Linked DNA regions of Homo sapiens. The protein of the gene in region 3 purifies or fractionates together with the protein of the main gene of each other region. This does not show direct contact. Each region holds a gene or a part of one and is shown on either strand. Other genes may lie near its edges.

Region 1 (7,020 bases), on a different chromosome or scaffold from region 3:
TTCCAGATGATAGGAAGAAAAGGGGATAAGTAGGGGAACCTGTAATATTACCACCAATAACTACCCCCAAACAGTGCCATATGAAGCAGAAATGAGAGAATGTGTGTTCTCAAGGCCTAGGGTGAGATCAAGGCTAAAGAAGGTAGGACAGGGTGCTGTACTCCATTAGGGCTAGAGAAATCTCGAAAGAAGACCCATGGGCAATCAGTGAGTAATAAGCATGAAGTCAGCATGGTACGGTGACGGGGTAGGACAGTAGGACTTTGTTCTCCGACAGGAGTAACTTGGATCCTTACCCTATTTCTTTACTAGATAGGGAAATTTGAGTAACTTACCTTTTTGAGCATTTATTTCTTTTAAAAATGCAAATGTGTGGCTGGGTGCGGTGGCTCACGCCTGTAATCCCAGCACTTTGGGAGGCCGAGGCAAGTGGATCATCTGAGATCAGGAGTTTGAAACCAACTTGGCCAACGTAGTGAAACCCCGTCTCTACTAAAAATACAAAAAATCAGCGAATTGTGGTGATGCATGCCTGTAATCCCAGCTACTCTGGAGGCTGAGGCAGGAGAATTGCTTGAACCCGGGAGGCGGAGGTTGCAGTGAGCTGAGATCACGCCATTGCACTCCAGCCTGGGCAACAAGAGTGAAATTCCCGTCTCAAAAAAAAAAAAAAAAAAAGCAAATGTTACTCACCTCACCCTTTAAAGAGATAAAGGGTGTGAAGTACCAGGACCATGGTAGATGCTCAGCTTACATTAGCTCCTGCCTTCCTCTTTCCCCATCACTCTACTCCCAGCATTTTTCTAGAACTAGGCTTCCAAGAGACAGCCATCTGGAGAGAATGATTGCCCTCTTCTTCCTCCCTCCACTAACAGTCTTTCTAAAGGATGTCATTACTCTCTTCAGAGATCAGTCCAGTAGACTTAATATGAATTTCCAAACCCCTCAGGCCTAGAAACATCCCTAAACCTGATTAGTGGAAATAGGAATTTCTTGATGAAGAAAGCATCTTGCTACATAATTAGAGATGATAAGCTTAAACGCTAAAATAGCTGTTTGGCATGATTTTGTGTGAATATATTCATGAAATCAACCAACCAAAAATAGATTGTGTCATATCCTTCCTTGTTTTTATAGAAGCAAGGGGCATGGGCAAGCAGGGCCCCTGATGTTGGAAAGGAGCCTCCAGGGAGGGAAGAATTAACAGGCTGGAGGACTAGGCTGGGAACTGAAGAGAACCCCGGAGGCTTCACACCTGTGACTAGTGTTGATCTTTTGTTAACTTTTAAATGGCCTGAGTCCATAGAAACTGCATCCTGAGAGGTTGCTCGGCTAGAAAGCGGAAAACCGCTTCACATGAGTGCTCTACTTTGTAATGAAAATAAACACTATTAATACAGGCAATTGTACACTGAAGGATCATTGTATTTATATTTGTAATTGTATAAGTAACACAAATATATTTTGGTTGTAACTATTAAGCTATACAGATAAAGCGAAAGTCTGTCATTCCCCCTTAATCCTAAAAATGCTTAGCTCTCTCTTGAGAGTAAGAGTTCTCAAAATTTTGGTCTCAGGACCCCACTACACACTGAAAAGTAATGAAGAAACTTTTAAAGGGCTTTTTGTATAGTGAATTAACATCTGTCAGTATTCACTATATTAGACATTAAAACTGAATTTGTTTTCGTATTCATTTAAAGCTAACAATAATATACCTATTACTTGTTAACATAAATGACCCTTTTTAATAAAAAATAACTATATTTTCTTTTAATTTTTTTTTTGGGGGGGGGACAGTTTCACTCTGCCACCCAGGCTGAAGTGCAATGGCACGGTCTTGGCCCACCACAATCTCTCCCTCCCAGGTTCAAGTGATTCCCCTGCCTCAGCCTCCCGAGCAGCTGGGATTACAGGCACGTGCCACCACGCCCCATTAATTTTTGTATTTTTAGTAGAGATGGGGTTTCACCATGTTGGCCAGTCTGGTCTCGAACTCTTGACCTCAAGTGATCCGCCCACCTCAGCCTCCCAAAGTGCTGGGATTACAGGCATGAGCCGCTGCGTCTGGCCATATTTTCTAAAACAAAAATAATTGAAAGGGAAGAATGACATTGCTTCACATTTTTGCCAGTTAATGTGCACCTTAGTAACAGAGCTAGATTCTCATGTCTGTTTCTGCATTCAAGTTTCTTGTTACACCATGTGTCATGTCATGTCTCCTCTAAAATAACCCATCGTAGAATAAGAGGTAAAAAGCCAAATAGTATCTTGGTATTATTATGAAAATAATTTTGACTTTGTGGACCCCCAAAAAAGTCCTAGGGACCCCAGGACTCTCCAAACCACACTTGGAGAACTACTGTCCTAGAGGTAGCTACTATTATCACTTTAGTGTGTAACCTTCCAGACTTTTTTTTTTTTAACAAGGACTACTTTATATAGACAGTCATATGTATTCACACATTTCTGAAACTTTTTTTATTAACAGTATATGTATTTCCAATATACTGTTAATAGTTTTCTAAATTGGTATGGATATATTTGCACTCCTTAATTTCCGCATATTATTTCCTAGTATGAATGTACCACAGTTTTACTTAACTATTTACCTGTGAATGACCTTTAGGTTTGTTCTGATTTTTTGCCAATAGTAGCAATGCTGCAGTGAATATCCTTCTATACAAATTCATTTATGTATTCAGTCTTGCAACAAACATTTACTGAGTACCTTCTGTGTGTCTGGTACTATCCTAGGTACTTCAAATATAGCAGTGAACAAAACAGAAATCCCTGCGTGGTGTTTTTGGGTTTATAGCAGGCCTGTTGGTAAACTTTAGACCGTTCAATAATACTGGGATGTTGTACACAAAATTTGTGGTGGTGGTGTTCATAAATGGAGGAAAGTACCCATGGTTTTCATCAGATCTTGAGAGAGCTAATATAACTAAAAATAGATTAGGAACCAGTGATTTAAAGCCTTTTTGATAATATTTATTTTACTTATAATATGGAAAAAATTTCCTTTACAGTCTACCCTCTTGAGAATCGTCTCCTATATTGCTGTGTCACCAACCTATCATTGAGATGAAAAAAGAATCTCCGGGAATGTAAAGCCTCTAAAAAGTATAGGAGGTGTAGGGCTGGGATGGTGTGGCGATGTGTAGTGCACATTTTCATGAGGTGATGTTAAAAAATTTATACGAGGTCATACAGGTTAGTCAGCAATATTACAGGACTCAAAAGTTATTGCCCATTACGAAAAAAATGGGATTTCTGCTAATCACCAGAAGAAAGTTAAATTATGTGAACTACACATGGTTTTCTGTGGTTATAAAGAATGAGTTTTAGAAAGATTTCTACTAAAAATGTTTAACCTGATGTTAAAATGTTTAAAAGCCTACATTTCTATTAATTGGGAAATATAATTCAGAATACTATCCATATTCTCTAAAAATGAGCCTAATGACTCATACTTTAATATAATATAAAAATATTGGTGTAGAATCTTCTTTAGTTTATACAATTAGAAAGTTGCTGATTTAATAAGAAAGTTATGAGAATGTCTTCTTGAATCATTACATTTATCCTGTGAGGCATGTATACAGTTTTGTTTCTGAGGTGCTGTATTAATATTGCGTCCTGGCCAGGCACAGTTGTTCACTCCCATAATCTCAGCACTTTGGGAGGCCTAGGTCAGAGAATCACTTCAGCCTGGGATTTCAAGACCAGCCTGGGCAACATAGGGAGTCCTCATCTCTAAAAAAAAATTTTTTTAAATAGCTGGGCCTGCCTGTAGTCCCAGCTACTCGGGAGGCTGAGTTGGAAGGATTGAGCCTGGGACGTTGAGGCTGCAGTGAGCCATGATCTCACCACTGCACTCCAGCCTGTGTGACAGAGCAAGATCCTGTCTCCAAAAAAAATAATAATAATATGTGTTCTAATTCATTTTCTAAAAATTCCCATCCAAAAAAGCTTTTGTATAATCAGCTATACAGGTTTATGTTGCATACATTAGATATATTACTTTTACGCTACAATGGATTTTTATTTTTAAAGTGAAATCGAGTCAGATTAGTATCATATAGATGTATTTACATCTTAATGTATTTTCATCTTAATGAATTATTTTCAGAGAATGAGCATTCTAAGTAAAGCTGATTTCCGTTTTAGAACTGAACTACCAGACTAGTACTTTAAGAGAATGGTGCAAGGCCTGGCACGGTGGCTCACGCCTCTAATCCTAACACTTTGGGAGGCCAAGGCAGGCAGATCACAAGGTCAGGAGATCAAGACCATCTTGACTAACACAGTGAAACCCCGTCTCTGCTGAAAATACAAAAAAATTAGCTGGGCGTGGTGGCACATGGCCTGTAGTCCCAGCTACTTGGGAGGCTGAGGCAGTAGAATAGCTTGAACCTGGGAGGCGGAGGTTGCAGTGAGCCGAGATCGCACCACTGCACTCCAGCCTGGGCGCTGGGTGGCAAAGTGAGACTCCGTCTCAAAAATAAAATAAAAAAAATGGTGCAGATATGGTCCCCTTTTAATTTAAATAAGGCCTTCAACAAAGCTGTTGTGGCATTCTTTTGATTGAAGTGGAGATAGTGCTTTTAGTTGGTTGCACTGAAGAATTGTTTTCAAAGGATATTGCTTAATGGCTAGATAACAGCCTGGAAAGAATTTTGTTTTTAATCTTAGGATCTCCTCTTAAAAACAGCTTGTTAATATGGAAAAGTATATGGATGATGAATGTTCATGGTCTCACTACCTAGAGGTCTCATTAAAAAGCATACACAACCTGATACACGTATATGTTTTTTTAAAGAAGAGTAAGGTATATATAGAGAGAGTGATACAGTGGGGTGTAAAGTGAAACGAAGTCTCCTCTTCCTGACTTCTCCCTCTGTTGCCCAGGCTAGAGTGCAGTGGCGAGATCTCCGCTTACTGCAACCTCTGCCTCCCAGGTTCAAGGGATTCTCATGCCTCTGCCTCCCAAATAGCTGGGACCAAGGGCATGTGCCATCACACCCAGCAATTTTTTTTTTTTTTTTTGAGATGGAGTCTTGCTCTTTCACCCAGGTTGGAGTGCCGTGGCGTGATCTCGGCTCACTGCAACCTCTGCCTCCCGGGTTCAAGCGATTATGCTGCCTCAGGCTCCCAAGTAGCTGGGACTACAGGCACCAACCACCATGCCTGGCTAATTTTTTGTATTTTTAGTAGAGATGGGGTTTCACCATGTTAGCCAGAATGGTCTCGATCTCCTGACCTCATGATCTGCCTGCCTCGGCCTCCCAAAGTGCTGGGATTACAGGCATGAGCCATCGTGCCTGTCCCTCCTCCTGACTTCTCAAACCCTGGTCCCTTTCCCCAAAGATTTGTTAGCTGTGTCTTAGACATCGTTTCAGATCCACTTTTTTTTATAGACCCATAGAATACACTTATGTCATTTAAACTTACTTATATAATATTACATGCACTCTTTTGCTTTTTTTTTTCCAGTCAATAACATGTCTTGGAGATTTTTTTCCTATAGACATGTATCTACCTTATTTTTTGAGAACTGTACAGTATTTTATAGAATACATATTCTTTAATTTGTTTAACCAGTCCTCTATTAATGATGTTTAGATTTATTTTAGGCTAGTTTCCAGCCAGGCGCCATGGCCCACACTTGGAATCCCAGCACTTTGGGAGGCTGAGGCTGGTGGATCACAAGGTTAGGAGATCGAGACCAGCCTGGCTAACACGGTGAAAGCCCGTCTCTACTAAAAATACAAAAAAAAAAAATTAGCTGGGCACGGTGGCAGGCGCCTGTAATCCCAGCTACTCGGGAGGCTGAGGCACAAGAATCGCTTGAGTTCAGGAGGCAGAGGCTGCAACGAGCAGAGATCACACCACTGCATTCCAGCCTGGGCAACACAGCAAGAATCCGTCTTAAAAAAAAAAAAAATTATTTTAGGCTAGTTTCCAATAAGAATAAACCCCTACTTTTAGTGCCTAACACAATAAAGTTTTATCACATCACAGCTGCGTGCTGGTGGGACAGCCCATCTCCATCTTGTAGCTGTGCCATCTGGCCCTGTGTTCTATAATCTGGCCCTGTGTTCTATAAGATCACCACAGCAAAAGAGATGGCCTGGAAAAGGCTCTAGCTCTTAACTGTCTTGCCCCTCCTTTCTTTGGCCAAAAGAAATATGTGTTTGAGATTGGGAAGTGTCAAGGAGCACCTGGATATTTGGGGAGCATCAGTGGTCTCTGCCACTGTACCAACAGTTAAGTCCTGTATCAGGCTTCAAAAAGAAGAGGAAGTCATTACCCAATTGTTCATTTGAGAAACAAACTCCACATGTATCAGCAATGTGCTCATTTCCTAAACAAGCCTATTGGCTGCATTACTAGATATAGAATGAAATATTTTGATTCTAGGTGCCCCATTTTAAGAAAGATTGATATTGACACTGTCCAGGGACATGTAGTCAGAACATGTAAGGATCTCCAGATTTTTGTGTCCTGAAGGTTTTCAAAGACTTGGAGGAGAGGGCAATGGTTTGTAGGGTACAGAATACTCTTATTCTGTGTGGTTCCCAAAGAGAGAACTAGAACCAATGATGGAGTTTTAGGATGATTTCTCTCACAATGCAGGATATTTAATCAGCAATTAGAGACTTTCATAAATCAAACATAAGCCAGATGACATCTATGAAGAATATTGTAAATATTTTTTGCTTAGCATGGGAGATTGGTCTGGGTAGTCTCTGCGGCCTCTTTTTTAAATCTGGAATTTTGTATCATGAATGTCAAATGAATATTTCTTTTTCTTTTTAAATAGGACACTGATGAAATTCAAGTTAACTATCCTGGAATGTTTGAATTGATGGAAGATTTACAAGGTAAGGCACTTTAAAGAATTTTTAGACTCCATTGGGAAAGGTAGGCCAAAAAAAAAGAATTTTTAGACTCCATTTGAGAGAAACATTTTGAGAGCCAGCTCTTTGGCAGGCACTGGGCAAAGCACTAGGG
Region 2 (7,497 bases), on a different chromosome or scaffold from region 3:
GTGTTACCCAGGATGGTCTTAAACCCCTGGACAAAAGTGATCCACCCCCCTCAGCAACCCAAAGTGCTGGGATTACAGGCGTGAGCCACCATGCCCAGCCCTTTCTTAAATTTAAGCAAACAAATTTTAATAATGATGGCTGACTCCTGTAATCCCAGCACTTTGGGAGACCAAGACAGGAGGACCATTTGAGCTCAAGAGTTCGAGACCAGCCTTGGCAACATGGTGAAACCCTGTCTCTACAAAAAATTTAAAAATTAGCTGGGTGTGGTGTGCACGCCTATAGTCCCAGCTACTTGGGAGGCTGGGGTGGGAGGACGGCTTTTGCCCATGAGGTGGAGGTTGCAGTGAGCCAAGATTTTGCCATTGTCCTCCAGCTTGGGCAACAGAGCCAGACCCTGTCTCAAAAAAGAAAAAAAAAAGCCTAGGCAACATAGTGAGACCCCATCACTACAAAAAATAGAAAAAATAGCTAGGTGTGATGGCACATGCCTGTAGTCTCACCTACTCAGGAGGCTGAGGCAGGAGGATCACTTGAGCCTGGGAAGTCAAGGCTGCAGTGAGCTGTGATCACATCACTGCACTCCATCCTGGGTGACAGAGTGAGACTCTGTCTCAAAAAAAAAAAAAAAAAAAAAAAGGAAAGAAAGAAAGGGAGGGAAGGAGGGAAGGAACAAAGGAAGGAACGAAGGAAGGAAGGAAGGGAAGGAGGGAGGAAGGAAGGAAGGAAGGAAAAAAGGAAGGAAAAATTTAGGCTGGGCACAATGGCTCACGCCTGTAATCCCTAGCACTTTGGAGGCCGAGGTGGGCCGATCGTGAGGTCAGGAGATCGAGACCATCCTGGCTAACATGGTGAAACCCCGTCTCTACTAAAAATACAAAAAAAATTAGCCGGGCGTGGTGGTGGGCGCCTGTAGTCCCAGCTACTCAGGAGGTTGAGGCAGGAGAATGGCGTGAACCCAGGAGGCGGAGCTTGCAGTGAGCCGAGATTGTGCTACTGCACTCCAGCCTGGGCAACAGAGCGAGACTCTGTCTCAAAAAAAAAAAAAATTAATTTAAAAGAAATTTTTTTTGAGACTGAGTTTCACTCTTGTTGCCCAGGCTGGAGTCCAGTGGCTCGTTCTCCACTCACTGCAACCTCTGCCTCCTAGGTTCAAGCGATTCTCCTGCCTCAGCCTCCCAAGTAGCTGGGACTACAGGCATGCACCACCAGGCCCGGTTAATTTTTGTATTTTTAGTAGAAACAGGGTTTCACCATGTTGGTCAGGCTGGTCTTGAACTCCTAACCTCAGGTGATCCACCCGCCTCAGCCTCCTCCTGCTGAGATTACAGGCATGAGCCGCCATACCCAGCTTTTTTTTTTTTTTTTTTTAAAGAACATGATTCAACTGTATTGCTCTCTATAAGAAACTCACTTTATAGACTGGTTCTGAAAGGATGGAAAAAGATATTTCATGCAAATATCTTTTTGCGTGACCAAAGAAGAGGAGGGCTGGCAATACTAATATCAGAAAAATTACTTGTCCAGGCCGGGCACGGTAGCTCACACCTGTAATCCTAGCACTTTGGGAGGCCGAGGCGGGTGCATCACCTGAGGTCAGGAGTTTGAGACCAGCCTAAAAAATATGGTGAAATCCTGTCTCTACTAAAAATACAAAAATTAGCCAGGCGTGGTCGTGCATGCCTGTAGTCTCAGCTACTCAGGAGGCTGAAACAGGAGAATCACCTGAACCCAGGAGACAGAGGTTGCCGTGAGCTGAGATCACACCACTGCACTCCAGCCTGGACGACAGAGCAAGACCCTGTCTCAAAAAAAGAAAAAAGAAAAATTACTTGTCCAAAAGGTTACAAGAGATAAAGAAGGCATTGTATGTTAATAAAAAGTTCAATACAGCAAGAAGATATAACAATTATAAACATTTATATACCTAATAACAGACCATCAGAACATATGAAGCAAAAATTGGTAGAATTGAAGGAAGAAATAGACAATTCCACAATAATAGTTAGAGACTTCAATGCCCCACTCCCAAGAATAAATAGAACAAACAGGAGACAAGTAAGGAAATAAAGGACTTGAGCGACACAGTAAGACAACCAGGTCTAACACATGTACAGACACTCCCCAGCAACAACAGCATCCACATTCTTCTCAGGCACACATGGGATATCCTCCAGGATGGACCATATGTTAGGCCACAGATTAAGCCTCAAGAGATTTTAAAAGGTAGACATCAGCCAGCTGTGGTGGCTTAGGCCTGTAATCCCAGCACTTTGGGAGGCTGAGGCAGGAGGATTGCTCGTGCCCAGGAGTTTGCAACCAGCCTGGGCAACACAGCCAGACTTCATCTCTACAAAAAGAGACAGAAGAAAAGGAGAAAGAGAGAAAGATAAGAAGGAAAGAAAGAAGAAATAAAAGAGATCATACCAAATATCTTCTCCAAGCACAATTGGATAAGGCTAGAAATCAATATGGGGGGGTTAAAAAAAAAAAGAAATCAATATCAAAGGAAAACTGGAAAATTCACAAATTTGTGGAAATTTACACACTCTTAAAAGAACCAATGGATCAAAGAAGAAATCACAAGGGAAATTAGAAAATACTCAGAAACAGGCCAGGCTGGGTGGCTCACACCTGTAATCCCAGCATTTTGGGAGGCCGAGGTTGGCGGATCACTTGAGGTCAGGCGTTTGAGACCAGCCTGGCCAACATTGTGAAACCCTGTCTCTACTAAAAATACAAAAATTAGCCAGGCGTGGTGGCAGGCACCTGTAATCCCAGCTACTTGGGAGGCTGAGGCAAGGGAATTGCTTGAATCCAGGAGAGGGAGGCTGCAGCGAGCAGAGATTGCACCAATGCACTCCAGCCTGGGCGACAGAGTGAGACTCCATCTCAAAATAAATAAATTAATTAAATAAATAGAGAAAATATTGAGAAACAAATGAAAACAAAAACACAGCATGCCAAAATTTACTGGACACAGTGAAAGCAGTGCTCAGGGGAAATTTTATAGCTATAAGTGCTTCAAAATCATAGACAGAAAATTGCCAGGGCCTGGGGGTATGGGGATGGGAGGAGGGAAGAGGAAGTTATTGTTTAATGGGGACAGAATTTCAGTTTCAGTTTAGCAAGAAGACCAGAATTTTAGAGATAGCTGATGGTGATGATTGCACAATATGAAATGAATGTACTTTGTTGTTGGGGTTTTTTTGTTTTGTTTTGTTGTTGTTGTTGTTGTTTTTTGAGAGGGAGTCTCGCGCTGTCGCCCAGACTGGAGTGCAGTGGCAAGATCTTGGCTCACTGCAAGCTCCGCCTCCCAGGTTCAAGCCATTCTCCTGCCTCAGCCTCCCGAGTAGCTGGGACTACAGGCGCCCGCCACCACGCCCGGCTAATTTTTTGTATTTTTAGTAGAGACAGGGTTTCACCGTGTTAGCCAGGTTGTGTTTTTGTTTTTTTTTTTTTTTTTCAGACGGAGTTTCGTTCTTGTTGCCCAGGCTGGAGTTTAGTGACTGTTGGAGTGAGTGAGCCATCTTGGCCCACGGCAACCTTCGCCTCCCAGGTCAAAGGCTTTTCCTGCCTCAGCGTCCTGAGTAGCTGAGGCTACAGGCATGGGCAACCACGCCTGGCTAATTTTAGTATTGTTAGTAGAGACGGGGTTTCACCATGTTGGCCAGGCTGCTCTAGTACTCCTAGGCTCAAGCGATCCGCCCACCTCGGCCTCCCAAAGTGCTGAGATTACAGAAGTAAGCCACCTTGCCCAGCTCCTTTGTATAAATAAATGATATTGATTTTCTTCTTGCAGCTCAGGAATTAGATCTGTTATTAGAATTTGCTTAAATTTAAGAAATGGCTGGGTACTGTGGCTCACCGCTGTAATCCCAGCACTTCGGGTTGCCGAGGCAGGCGGATTGCTTGCGTCCAAGAGTTCGAGGCCAGCCTCGGCAACACAGTGAGACCCGCCCGCTCTCTGCACCACTCCTTCCCCCCCTCCTTTCCCCGTCTCTACAAAAAATACAAAAATAAATAAATTAGTCCGGCATGGTGGTGACTGCCTGTGGTCCAGCTACGCAGGAGGCTGAGGTGGGAGGATCGCTTGAACCCCGGTGGTCGAGGCTGCAGGGAGCCATGATCGCGCGCGCCACTGAACACCAGCCTGGGCGACAAAGCAAGACCTTGTCCCAAAATAGATTAAATAAATAAATAAATAAATTTAAGGAAAAAGCAACTTGATTCGAAGATAAATAGTGATAGTGCAAGTGGTGCCGAACTAACGATAAATTTGGAAAACAGCGGCCCACGCGCAGAGCCCGTCCCAATTCTGGCAGCCTTTGGATTTGGCTTCCACGTTTTCCAGATTTCCCTCGGCCTCTAGCTCGCTTGCGTCAGAGGGGCCCCGAGGGGCGGCCCACCCGCTAGCCCCGCCCCCAACCGCTCACCGCCCCGCGAGCCCCGCCCCCTCGGCCTCCTCCTCATCGGCCGCCGTTGCGCGGCGCAGAGCGGCAGCAAGATGGCGGCGCAACAGCGGGACTGCGGGGGTGCTGCGCAGCTGGCGGGGCCGGCGGCGGAGGCTGACCCCCTAGGACGCTTCACGTGTCCCGTGTGCTTAGAGGTGTACGAGAAGCCGGTACAGGTGCCCTGCGGACACGTGTAAGCGGCGAGCCCGGGCCTGGTCGGGGGGCGCTTAACTGGGAAGGGAATGGAGCCGAGGAGCGAGATGGGTCTCAGGGCGGGAGCCAGAGGACCCACCCAGAGGGGCCTCCCGGGGGTGTCCCCCGGGGCTCCTAAGGGCCGTGAAAGCTGCCGGGGCGCTCTTCTGTCCCGCCCCGCTCACTCCTAAGTATCCCGTTCCTCCGCCCGTCTTAGCGGGGCAGCTGCTGTCTGTTGAGCGCCTGCGATGTTCCAGGCGGCCTGTCAGTCTCCTTCCCACACGTGATAGTGGACTCGTGCCCTGCGGGGACTTTAGGCTCCGAAGTCCGCCCTTGGAGAGCCGACGTTTCCTTTCTAGTCCACGTCGCTCTTAAAGCATAGGACATTTGGCGTCGTGTCTAGCTGTGGCGAGTTATTCTACTGTGCACTAAAGTCGGGAGAAACGCTGAACTAGACTAAAACAACAAAAGGGAAGTCTTTATGGGGATCTGGCCAGTTTGCCCTTAGCTGTGAAAGGGGGGTGGGAGTTGGCAGATGGGATTGTTAGCATTCTACTTCCTGTGTAGGAGGTTTGTTTCTTTCAGTTTTCAATTAAGCCTTCATGACCTGAATATTGTGAATAGAGTGGTTATAATGATTAAAGCAGATATGTGTATAAATGTCCAGTCCAGGTCCTGGGCTGTGGCCGGGGCTTTCGAGGTTGGTCAGGTTGGTCGATTTGAATCTAAGCCTTGTTCCATCAGACGCACAAACACATCTGAGTTGAAAGAATTGTAGACAACGTGGCCACCTGCTTCTTGCCTCAGAATTGGCTTTTCCTCTGGCCCCTCTCAGTGCTTATCGTGGGATCACCTTGGCATTGGTCTTGGCAGCGGGCACAGTAGCCATTGCACTCCATGGGCATTATTCTATAGCCACCCTGCAGCGGGGGAGGGTTGGCAGCCATTTTACAGGTGAATACACTGAGGGTCCGAGGCTCTCTTAGGGAAGGGTCACCGTGGCCTAGCTCTTCCCAGATGTACTGCAGGTGACCATTTCAGTAGTCCAGAGAACAGTGCTTGGCACCTAGCTGGCTGCTTTTTGCTTCATCATGTTGCTTTAGGCTATTCATCTTTGCAATTCGGTTAGCCTGGAACTCTTCCCCCCACCCCTCCCTTTTCAGGCTTCAAGTCCCAGGTTAAGTTACCTCACCAAATACCATCCCCATCTAAATTACTTCCCCCACTTCCTTTCTGGGACTTAACTTCCTTCTCCTTGCTTGCACAGAGCAAAACTTAACAGCTCATGACGGAGTGGCCATATCTTTATTGCCCCTGAACTGACTGGAATGGCCTCTGTGTGCCAGATTTTGGGGTAGACTCTGCCTTCAGAGTTTACAGTCCAGTGAATTGATTATAAATAAGTACCAATGACTGGTCAAACTATTGTAAAAATTCATTCTGCAAGTGGGAGGGTATTTCAGGGATCACACCTCTGTGCGTGGGGTGAGTGATCAGGTAATGGTTGAATGAACTAATAAGTCGTGTAAGCAAGCTTCACGAGAGTTGAAGTGGTCTTTAGCTTTTTCATTGAATCCACTTATCCTTGGATCAGATTTACCTGATTTTGGATTAATTCAGTGGATTTCATTTACTATTAACATTTGTAAAAAGGCTAGACCCAGCACAGTTTGCTAAATGAAGAGCAGCAAAATTTGAGATTTTCTTGAGCTTGGTGAACCTTTCCTAGGTCAGAGGGCAAGGAACAGTACTGGTTTTCAAACCTTGGCTCTTCTCTATCCTCGCTGTCCTAGCCCCACGTGATCAGCAGTTCAGTGCAAATTGAAGACAGATGGAAGCACCTCTGTGAGGGCAGCCCAAATCCCCGCTAGCTCCAACCGACTGCTTTCTCCTGTGCCTAGTTGATTTTTACCTTTTGTGCTTGGAAAGTTGAGCATCACTGCAACTCTGGCTGGGGCATTGGATTTTTATAAAACTTTATTTCAAGCCCTGAATGACTGTGTTCTCCAATCTGGTAGAATACAGCTGGAGAAAGGCAGCTGGCTGGGTGCCCAAGAGAAGGGAATTTCTTCCTAGCACTGTGACGGAGTGGAGCATCGGAAGGCTGAACTAGAAAAGGGCGCATAAGTAGGAAATAGAAACTGAAAAGCCATCCCAGGATATTTGAGTTGTTCAAAAGCAGGCTGGTAGTTTGGGCATGTCTCAGGCACAAAGTGACTCGTGAACATTTGATAGATGAGCTGTACCTGTGTGTGTGCTTGAGAAGAGACTTCGAGCTGCTTTTATCTGCATGCTGGGTTTGGTTCCATTATACTCACTGGACCCTCTGTGCTCTCTTGGGTTCCTCTTGTCATCTGCCTTTGTGAACAGGCAACACAAGTGATGGCCACAGGCCCTGCCTGTCTCTACTGCCTCATCACTTGCCCTTCTCACCATGGTCTACCGCATCATGGCCCCCAAGGTCTGCCTGCCTTCCTTTCCAGTCCTCATTTGTGTGTGGCGTGATCTTGGTGTGGAGCTCTGCACCCAGATCTGTGTGGCTGTCCTCGTAATCAGGTCCCACCCAGCTCAAATGCCAACTCCTCAGAAGCAGCTTTCTATGATCACCCCAGCTGGTCTGTTTGCCATATTTCCTTCATATTTTTAATCACTATCTGAAATTAACATTTGTGTTTCCCTTCACTCTAGAATGTAAGCATCATGAGAACAGGGCTTTGTCAAGTTTCCATTGCCCTCAGTGGTGAATGAATAGACTCCCTCACCTTCTCTGTACCTGGTCTGGAATTTTGCCTAACAGCATTAACATCTAACTTAATGACAAGGAGGAAGGAGATTCTTAGAGGCAGTAGA
Region 3 (7,841 bases):
AGTGAGCTGAGATCACACCACTTACATTCCAGCCTGGGCAACAGAGTGATCGAGATCCTATCTCAAAAAAAAAAAAAAAAAAAAAGAGGAGAAAGAAAAGTCAGCCTGGAGGGTCTTGGCTAAAAACCATAAGCAGAGAGTAGTGGGATGTGATTTGGGATACAGCTGTAGTGACTGAGTCTGTGGAAGTCACTGGAGGTGAGAACAGACCAGGGAAGCATCACAGTGTGGAGTTAGATGAGATCTAACTGAGCTAGCATAGAGCCCTAGACAGAAGGTGGGGTTCTGAGACCTTGGGGAAGGGATATGTTCCCAAGATGTCCCTTTACATATTCTTAGGTTAAAGAATTGCCCACCCTTAAGGATATGGACTTTCTCAACAAGAACCAGAAAGTATATATTGGTGAAGAGGAGAAGAAAATATTTCTGGAGAAGCTGAAGAGAGATGTGGAGGTGATGATTGGGTGCTCTGGGAAATGGCTTTCCTTTTTTTGCTCCCTAGAGGGTAGTTGTCTCTTTCATTCACGGTATGAGGGAGCTCCTCCCCTTCCCTTTATTCTTCAGGTCCTCTGCCTATATGGGGGTTTAGTATGAGACATGAAAAACCCCTGGAGCTGACCCGTGGAAGGGGTGGCTGGAATAAGCTAAAAGGATGATCTTAGATACTAGGACATATAGGCACTAAAGGCAGTGGTATGCCCTGCAACCTCAATTTTTATACTTCCTTTCCCCAGAAGGGCCCCAGAAATTCAAAGGTACAGGTACAGGGGTGATACCTAGCAGTGAAGAGTGAGAGAGAGGTGTCTGATTTGTCAGTGGGTCTCAGTTTCTAGTGCAGCTGAAGATCATGGACTACAGCCTTCTGCTAGGCATCCACGACATCATTCGGGGCTCTGAACCAGAGGAGGAAGCGCCCGTGCGGGAGGATGAGTCAGAGGTGGATGGGGACTGCAGCCTGACTGGACCTCCTGCTCTGGTGGGCTCCTATGGCACCTCCCCAGAGGGTATCGGAGGCTACATCCATTCCCATCGGCCCCTGGGCCCAGGAGAGTTTGAGTCCTTCATTGATGTCTATGCCATCCGGAGTGCTGAAGGTGAGAGAACCGGGACAATTTAAGGGTGGAGAGGGGATTTTTCCTGGAGGACAGAGACCAGAGTGCTGGGGGAGAGCCTGATTAGCTTTTCAGAACAAAACTGACTGCTTCCTGGAGAAAGGGAATTGGAACTAAACCTACTCTGAATTGTTGGTCTCTCTCCCAGGAGCCCCCCAGAAGGAGGTCTACTTCATGGGCCTCATTGATATCCTTACACAGTATGATGCTAAGAAGAAAGCAGCTCATGCAGCCAAAACTGTCAAGCATGGGGTGAGAGTTCGCAAAAGCCTTTCCTTTCCTGTCTTGACTATTCTTTGGGAATAGAGTCTCTTGTGCCAGAGCAATGGGGTGGCAAAAGAATGGAGGTGGTCTGGGGTAGATTGGGTGGGGGTGATGGGGACGGGTGCTAGGGTGGCCTGACATATTGTTCCGTATCTCCTCTCACAGGCTGGGGCAGAGATCTCTACTGTCCATCCGGAGCAGTATGCTAAGCGATTCCTGGATTTTATTACCAACATCTTTGCCTAAGAGACTGCCTGGTTCTCTCTGATGTTCAAGGTGGTGGGGTTCTGAGACACTTGGGGGAATTGTGGGGATATTCTAGCCACCAGTTCTCTTCTTCCTTTGCTAAATTCAGGCTGCAGGCTCCTTCCATCCAGATAACTCCATCCTGTCGAGTAGGCTCTTTCTGACCCTCAGAAATACATTGTCCTTTTTCCTCTTTGCCCATTTTTCTTCCCTCTCTTCCTCCCCATGAGAAGTCTGCTTGTAGTATTAGAATGTTATTGTTGACTCTCTCCCAAGTGCCTTGATCTTTGTAATATCTCCTGTTGTTTCTATGATATAGGAGCTAGGGGAAGGGGGTTGTTTGCCTTCTTCAGGACCTGACTGGACAGATGGACCTGGCTCAAGCAACTACTCTGGATGCACTTTGCTGTGTGGGATGAACTAAAAGTGTCTGAATTTTGCTGATAACTTTATAAAACTCACTATGGCATGCTTCCCTCCTGGTGGGCCCTAGGATGGATGACACTCAAGATACTACAGATGTGGGTGCAGGCATGCACACACACGATGGAATATGGCCATTCCTACACAGGTGGGGTAGAGAGTGGGTCAGCAGCCTGGCACCTCACAGAGGTGGGACCTAAGAGGACTCATGATTATGCAGAGAATTGGATTGGGTCTCTGTCATAGATTGAGTAATCTCTTCCCTTACCTCAATTCCATCTCCACCCATCTCTACATCTGGGCACAGCAACCCAGAGATGGCCAAAAGCATTCAAGCCTGGGGGAAGATGTTTGACTATTGCTGCTCTTCACCAGAACCTCACACCTCTCCTGGGACTGGAACCCTTCAGTGGGTGTGTGGCCAGTTTTGGAGGCTGGAATGATGGGCCAGGGTGTAGGATTCATTCTCCATGTAAAGTTTCCTTTCATCCTGCCTAGCCATCCCCAAGGTTTATTTCCAGAAGAAAGGAATATCTCTACTTGGATCAATTCTGGTCATTTCAAGAGGATGGAGGCCTCAAGTGTGGGAACTTCCCCTACTCCCTGGATGTGTGTACCTAGCACACTTCCTTCTCCCACCCCTTTTTCCAGTTGGATTTGTTTTTCTGTTCTCTTCTGTCCTGTCTTATACTGCAACTGTGTCTCCTAGGGGACAGATGGCCTTCTTTGTCATCTTCACTCTCCACCCCCAGAGAGGAGTCAGAGCCATAACTCAATCACTCAGCCCCTCCAAAGATAGTTGATGTGTGATAATCTCATAATGTTGAGAACCCTGATGAGATACATTGTCTTCCTCTCCCTACAATGCCTCTGGGGCCAAGGCACCCATTCTTCTTGCTATCCTCCATCCCCCTTGAGGCTTCCACTTTTTTTTTTTTTAGACATAAAGCTGGGCATCAGCAACTGGCCTGTGGTGATGCAAAGCTGCTTTGCTCTGTATCTGGCTGGACTGATCTGTCTCACAAGAAGCCATGAGGCCATAGGGAGAAGCTCCCTCTCCCCTTCATCTTCTGCTCCAAAGGTGGTAGCAAGAGGAGTACCCAGTTAGGGGTTGGAGCCCCCATATAACATCTTCCTGTCAGAAGACTGATGGATCTTTTTCATTCCAACCATCTCCCTTTCCCCCGATGAATGCAATAAAACTCTGTGACACCAGCAACCATTGCTCTTTAGAAATGGGTTTTCTGATCATATGGCTGATGTGTTATGGGCAGTATGGATGTCTTCATTTGTTGCTTCTGTTTTTCATCTTTTTTGTTTTATTAATAAAAATTTATGTATTTGCTCCTGTTACTATAATAATACAGGGAATAAATTATTCAATCCAAATTTCTGTACAGAAATGCCTTTTTTTTTTTTTTTTTAAATTTCACTTCTCTCAGGGAGCCTGTGTTTAAGGGTGCAGAGACCAGCTGAAGAATTCTGGTGTTCAAGGTGTTGGGCCCCTAACTAAGGATGTGGGTTTCTAGACAGATGGCTGTGAACTTTTTTAAAAAGGCTGTGAAGGGTGTGCACGGGAATGGAAAACTTAGTCTTTAACCTTGTGGGAGGTCAGCGGTAGTGAGGGCCAGGGAAGAGTAGGGTGATGGGACCCTTCCTCTTCCCAGAGTTCTGGGCTTGCTAACACTCCATCTTTGTAAAGGTGAGTAGGCCTCTCAGCCCACCAGCTAAAAGAAAAGGAATCTAGTATTCCCCCAGGCTTCCTGGGAAAGCTGTCCTCTTCCTGGAGGGAAGGAAGAGTACAGCAGGGTCCTGGGAAAGTGAAGAAAGTGACTAGCCCTCCAGTCTAGAGGGGGGAGTGAAAAAGGGGTGGATGAATAGAGGTTGTTGCCAGTTTGGGAGATTCCTGCCTGTCTTGGCTGAGGAAGTCTTTTGGCTGGTGGAAAAACCTGGCTTGATGTGGCCCCAGGGAAGTGAGTTGGATTGGGCGGAGACTGCTTGATGTGGGAAGCAGAGCAGAGCTTTTTTTTTTTCTTCTTTGAGAGTTTTTAACTCTATTTGAACCATACACTTGACACCACCACCACCTCGAGCCACTTTTTAAAAAATGTATTCGCTTCCCATTCTGCACCAGCCTCCATATCCCTGTTTGTGGAAAGAAAAATCAGAGGCACTGACCAATGATCATCTGAGAGCAGGTTGTGGGGGTCATAGGAGGTAACAATCTAGAAAGAGGCAGGAGATGAGGGAGGGGATTGAAATAGTTTAGTACCCGGATTTGTTTATTTTTTAGAGCCAATGCTTTTCTTTTTACTATGACTCTTCCCATCCCACATTGTTCCTCAAAGGCCCTTCTACCATAAGGATTCAAAAAATTGCCGCCCTCCCCCCGAATCCCCATATACCCACCAACACTTCACCCACCCATCCACCACCAGCTCCTGGGAGCTGCTACGCAGCTGGCTGGGAAAGAAAAGGGAGAGTGCTCCGCCGGGAGCGGGGAGCGAGTAGGGTGGCGTCTCCAGGGATTTAACCTCCTACCCTCAGTTCCATGACGCCACCCCCTCCCTCCAAAGACTGGGACAGCGCCTCCATTTTTGTTTTGGGGAGGAAGGGCAGGGGCTTGCGGATAGAAGGGGGTCAAAGGAACGGTGATTATCACCTGTGAGGGGAAAGGGGGTGCTGTCCTCCCTCCTTCCCTTTTCCTCAGCCTGCACCCCCTGCAATCCCCCACCTTTCGGGGTCTCCCCCTCCTTGTTGCTAAGGCCCGGACCGTCATCCCAGCAACAGCCTCAGTCATGTGACCGGCAATGGCGGCGCTGACGAGAGGTAGGTGAGCCCGGCGCCCCCCACACCCACCGCGCGCCCCCCGGGCCCCGCTCGCACCCCTCACGCGCCCCCCGCTCCCCCGGCGCCCCCTCCTCCACCTCCCCTCCCCGCGCGCGGCTCCGGGCTCCCCGCTCCGTGCCCGGCCGATCATCTTTCTAGCACCCTCCAGCCTTGGCCTCCATTCGGGGGTTCTGAGGGCTGCGATCGGGCCGACATGCACCCCCACCCGGCGGTGGGGATCCGGGGGCTTTGGCTACTGAGGGATGTGGGGAGTTGGTTCCGGGTCGGGTCTTGGAGGAGGCCGTGGGGGGAGGGCGGGAGCTGCTTCAGTGGATGCCCCCAGGGACCCTTGCCCATCCGGGCTGTGCCTCCCTCTGGCCTCTGTCTGGAGGGAGAGACTGGTTCCTTGTCCGGCCTGGGTTGCCACAGAGGAATCACAGACCCACCCTAAACTGGGGCCCCGCCTCCCTTTTCTGTGCCAGCAGGACTTGGACCTAGGACACCTAGGTCCTGGGTCCCCCGTGATGGGGAGAGAAGTGTTGCATCGCGGATAGACTGTATGGGCTGAGACTCTAGGGTTCCATTTTCACTTATGAATCTCGAGGTGCATCTGGCCTTGGGGGACGATGATGGAGGCATGAAGGGACAGCTGCTCCTTCTTGGATCAGTCAATAAATGGAGGTCACACTAATGGCCCTTCTTTCTGTTTGAGCTGCATTTGGAAGTGTTGTGGAGACAGCCCCGTAGCCCAATGCGACCAGACTCAGGGAAAACATCAGGCCCCTCCAGCTGAGCCCTTGTGTGAGCCCCGCCCCTCCCTAAATGCCAGACTTGGGAGCTGACAGACAGCACTGCCTGTGCTGGGTTTAAAAGGTGACAATGAGAACTTTGTTATTGCAGGGGCTGCTGCCACTTTGTTCACATCCTTAACAGACTTCAGCAGAAGGGACTGAGTTAGCTCTCAAGGAAGGCTCCCTGGCAATAGGGGCTGAATTATTTGGCAATGTGGAGCAGGCGAGGAGTTGGGGAGCATAGGAAATATTCCGGTCCATGTGATCTGAGGGAGGTGGCAAGAAGACCTCCACCTGTGTGGGCGTTTTCTTTCCTGACTTCTCTTATGTGTGCCCTAGGCTTTCTTGGGGGCCTCAGAGCTGGGGAAGAAAGGAGGAAGGTTAGCATGTTGAAGTTCCTTCTTGAGCAACTTGGGGAGAAGCTGATAATGGAATTCTGCAGAGAAGAGAGGAGATGGAAGGGGAGTTTTTATTTCTGGGTTGGCTGAGGGGAATGGTAACATTTGCCATCATAACTTTTTACCCTTCCCCCACTCCCAGTCCTGGTCAGCTGAGTGGAAATAGAAGGATTTCTGCTGCCATCATCTTCCATGGGCTTTCCAGGTATCTCCCCCGCAAGGGATCCTCAATTTTCACCCTTAAACTGGTTTCCTTCATTCCATGTTCCAAGTAATGCCATTCTTAGTAACCTATACCCAGGTTTCTGTCTCTGTTCCATGGGCTGCTGGGTTGGGGGCCATGGGAATTGGGAGAAGGGGTTTCTCACTTTCCTTCCATTTTTCCGCCCTACCAGGTCACACGACCTACAAGTAGGGAGCAGGGAAAGAAGAGTGAGCCTGCATGCCAATTCTAAGCTCTTCAGGATCAAAGTAAGCAAAAAGGAGGGGCAAAGAGTCTCCCTCCCCTTTAAACAGCCCATTTTTCCCCAAGAGGTGGGAGGGGCAAGTTGTTTCTATGATCTGGGAGAAATGACAGGAGAAACAAGACTGATACTTGGCTTAGATGATAATATAGCTCTGGAAACTTTTTTGCTCTTCAGTGGGTTTTGGGTTTGGAAGATAAGGGGAGACAGAATATGAATTTGGGTGAAGGGTTGGGGATTAGGCTTTGAGAAAACAGAGGTAATAGAGGGTTTGGAAGGAACCTGAAGTAGGAGGCACTGATACTTGTCAAATGGGGACCCCCCACCCTGAGTCCCTTTCACCCTGGGGGCAGTGTCGTTCGTCCTGTCCAGAATGGCAGCCTGTGGAGGCACCTGCAAGAACAAAGTGACTGTGTCCAAGCCCGTGTGGGACTTCCTGAGCAAAGAGACCCCAGCCCGGCTGGCCCGGCTTCGGGAGGAGCACCGTGTGTCCATCCTCATAGATGGCGAGACTTCTGACATCTATGTTCTCCAGCTTTCCCCACAGGGTCCTCCCCCGGCCCCTCCAAATGGGCTCTACCTAGCCCGGAAGGCTCTCAAGGGGCTGCTAAAAGAGGCAGAGAAAGAGCTGAAGAAAGCTCAGAGGCAGGGGGAGCTGATGGGCTGCCTGGCTCTGGGGGGTGGAGGGGAGCACCCTGAGATGCACCGCGCAGGCCCACCCCCTCTCCGAGCAGCCCCACTTCTGCCCCCAGGAGCTCGGGGGCTCCCCCCTCCTCCTCCCCCCCTGCCCCCACCTCTTCCTCCTCGCCTTCGGGAGGAGGCAGAAGAGCAGGAGAGCACCTGCCCCATCTGTCTGGGGGAGATCCAGAATGCCAAGACATTGGAGAAGTGCCGGCATTCATTCTGCGAGGGCTGCATCACCCGGGCTCTGCAGGTGAAAAAGGCCTGCCCCATGTGCGGCCGCTTCTATGGGCAGCTGGTGGGCAACCAGCCCCAGAATGGGCGGATGCTGGTCTCTAAGGACGCCACCCTCCTACTGCCCAGCTATGAGAAGTACGGCACCATTGTCATCCAGTACGTCTTCCCGCCCGGTGTCCAGGGGGTAAGAAGACCATGGCCTGCCCTTACCCTTTGGCTTTCCCCAAGCTCTGACCTAGGAAAACCGGGTGAGGGTGAGTGTGCTTGTTAGATGTGAGACAGTCTTGCTGTCTTCCACTGTGCCCTCCTACTCAGTGCCCTGGACCTAGGAGGTCCCCGTGAGGCCCAGCCTTTCCATCCCTGTGATCCCAAGGCACACGTGAAAATCAGATATGA

The links. Proteins that work in one complex are often made in the same cells at the same time.
Region 1: the proteins of DTX3 (region 3) and NDUFAF5 purify together in Homo sapiens (affinity purification with mass spectrometry; 4 studies listed by BioGRID and IntAct, with this or other methods). This does not show direct contact.
Region 2: the proteins of DTX3 (region 3) and RNF114 purify together in Homo sapiens (affinity purification with mass spectrometry; 5 studies listed by BioGRID and IntAct, with this or other methods). This does not show direct contact.

Annotation. Positions count from the first base shown.
Region 1 is NC_000020.11:13,802,013-13,809,032, forward strand, and holds part of NDUFAF5 (arginine-hydroxylase NDUFAF5, mitochondrial), read left to right. Parts: intron 1-1,137; coding exon of another isoform or gene 1,138-1,320; exon of another isoform or gene 1,321-1,404; intron 1,405-6,829; coding exon 6,830-6,890; intron 6,891-7,020. UniProt on the Homo sapiens protein: Arginine hydroxylase that mediates hydroxylation of 'Arg-111' of NDUFS7 and is involved in the assembly of mitochondrial NADH:ubiquinone oxidoreductase complex (complex I, MT-ND1) at early stages. May also have methyltransferase activity.
Region 2 is NC_000020.11:49,931,905-49,939,401, forward strand, and holds the start of RNF114 (E3 ubiquitin-protein ligase RNF114), read left to right. Parts: upstream 1-4,492; 5' UTR 4,493-4,508; coding exon 4,509-4,648; intron 4,649-7,497. UniProt on the Homo sapiens protein: E3 ubiquitin-protein ligase that promotes the ubiquitination of various substrates. In turn, participates in the regulation of many biological processes including cell cycle, apoptosis, osteoclastogenesis as well as innate or adaptive immunity.
Region 3 is NC_000012.12:57,599,985-57,607,825, forward strand, and holds the start of DTX3 (probable E3 ubiquitin-protein ligase DTX3), read left to right. Parts: upstream 1-4,839; 5' UTR 4,840-4,874; exon of another isoform or gene 4,875-5,586; 5' UTR 5,587-5,747; exon of another isoform or gene 5,748-6,205; 5' UTR 6,206-6,268; intron 6,269-6,458; 5' UTR 6,459-6,505; coding exon of another isoform or gene 6,506-6,533; coding exon 6,534-6,534; intron 6,535-6,880; coding exon 6,881-7,629; intron 7,630-7,841. Other genes in the region: PIP4K2C (phosphatidylinositol 5-phosphate 4-kinase type-2 gamma), read left to right, coding at 340-453, 827-1,094, 1,261-1,364, 1,542-1,622. UniProt on the Homo sapiens protein: Regulator of Notch signaling, a signaling pathway involved in cell-cell communications that regulates a broad spectrum of cell-fate determinations.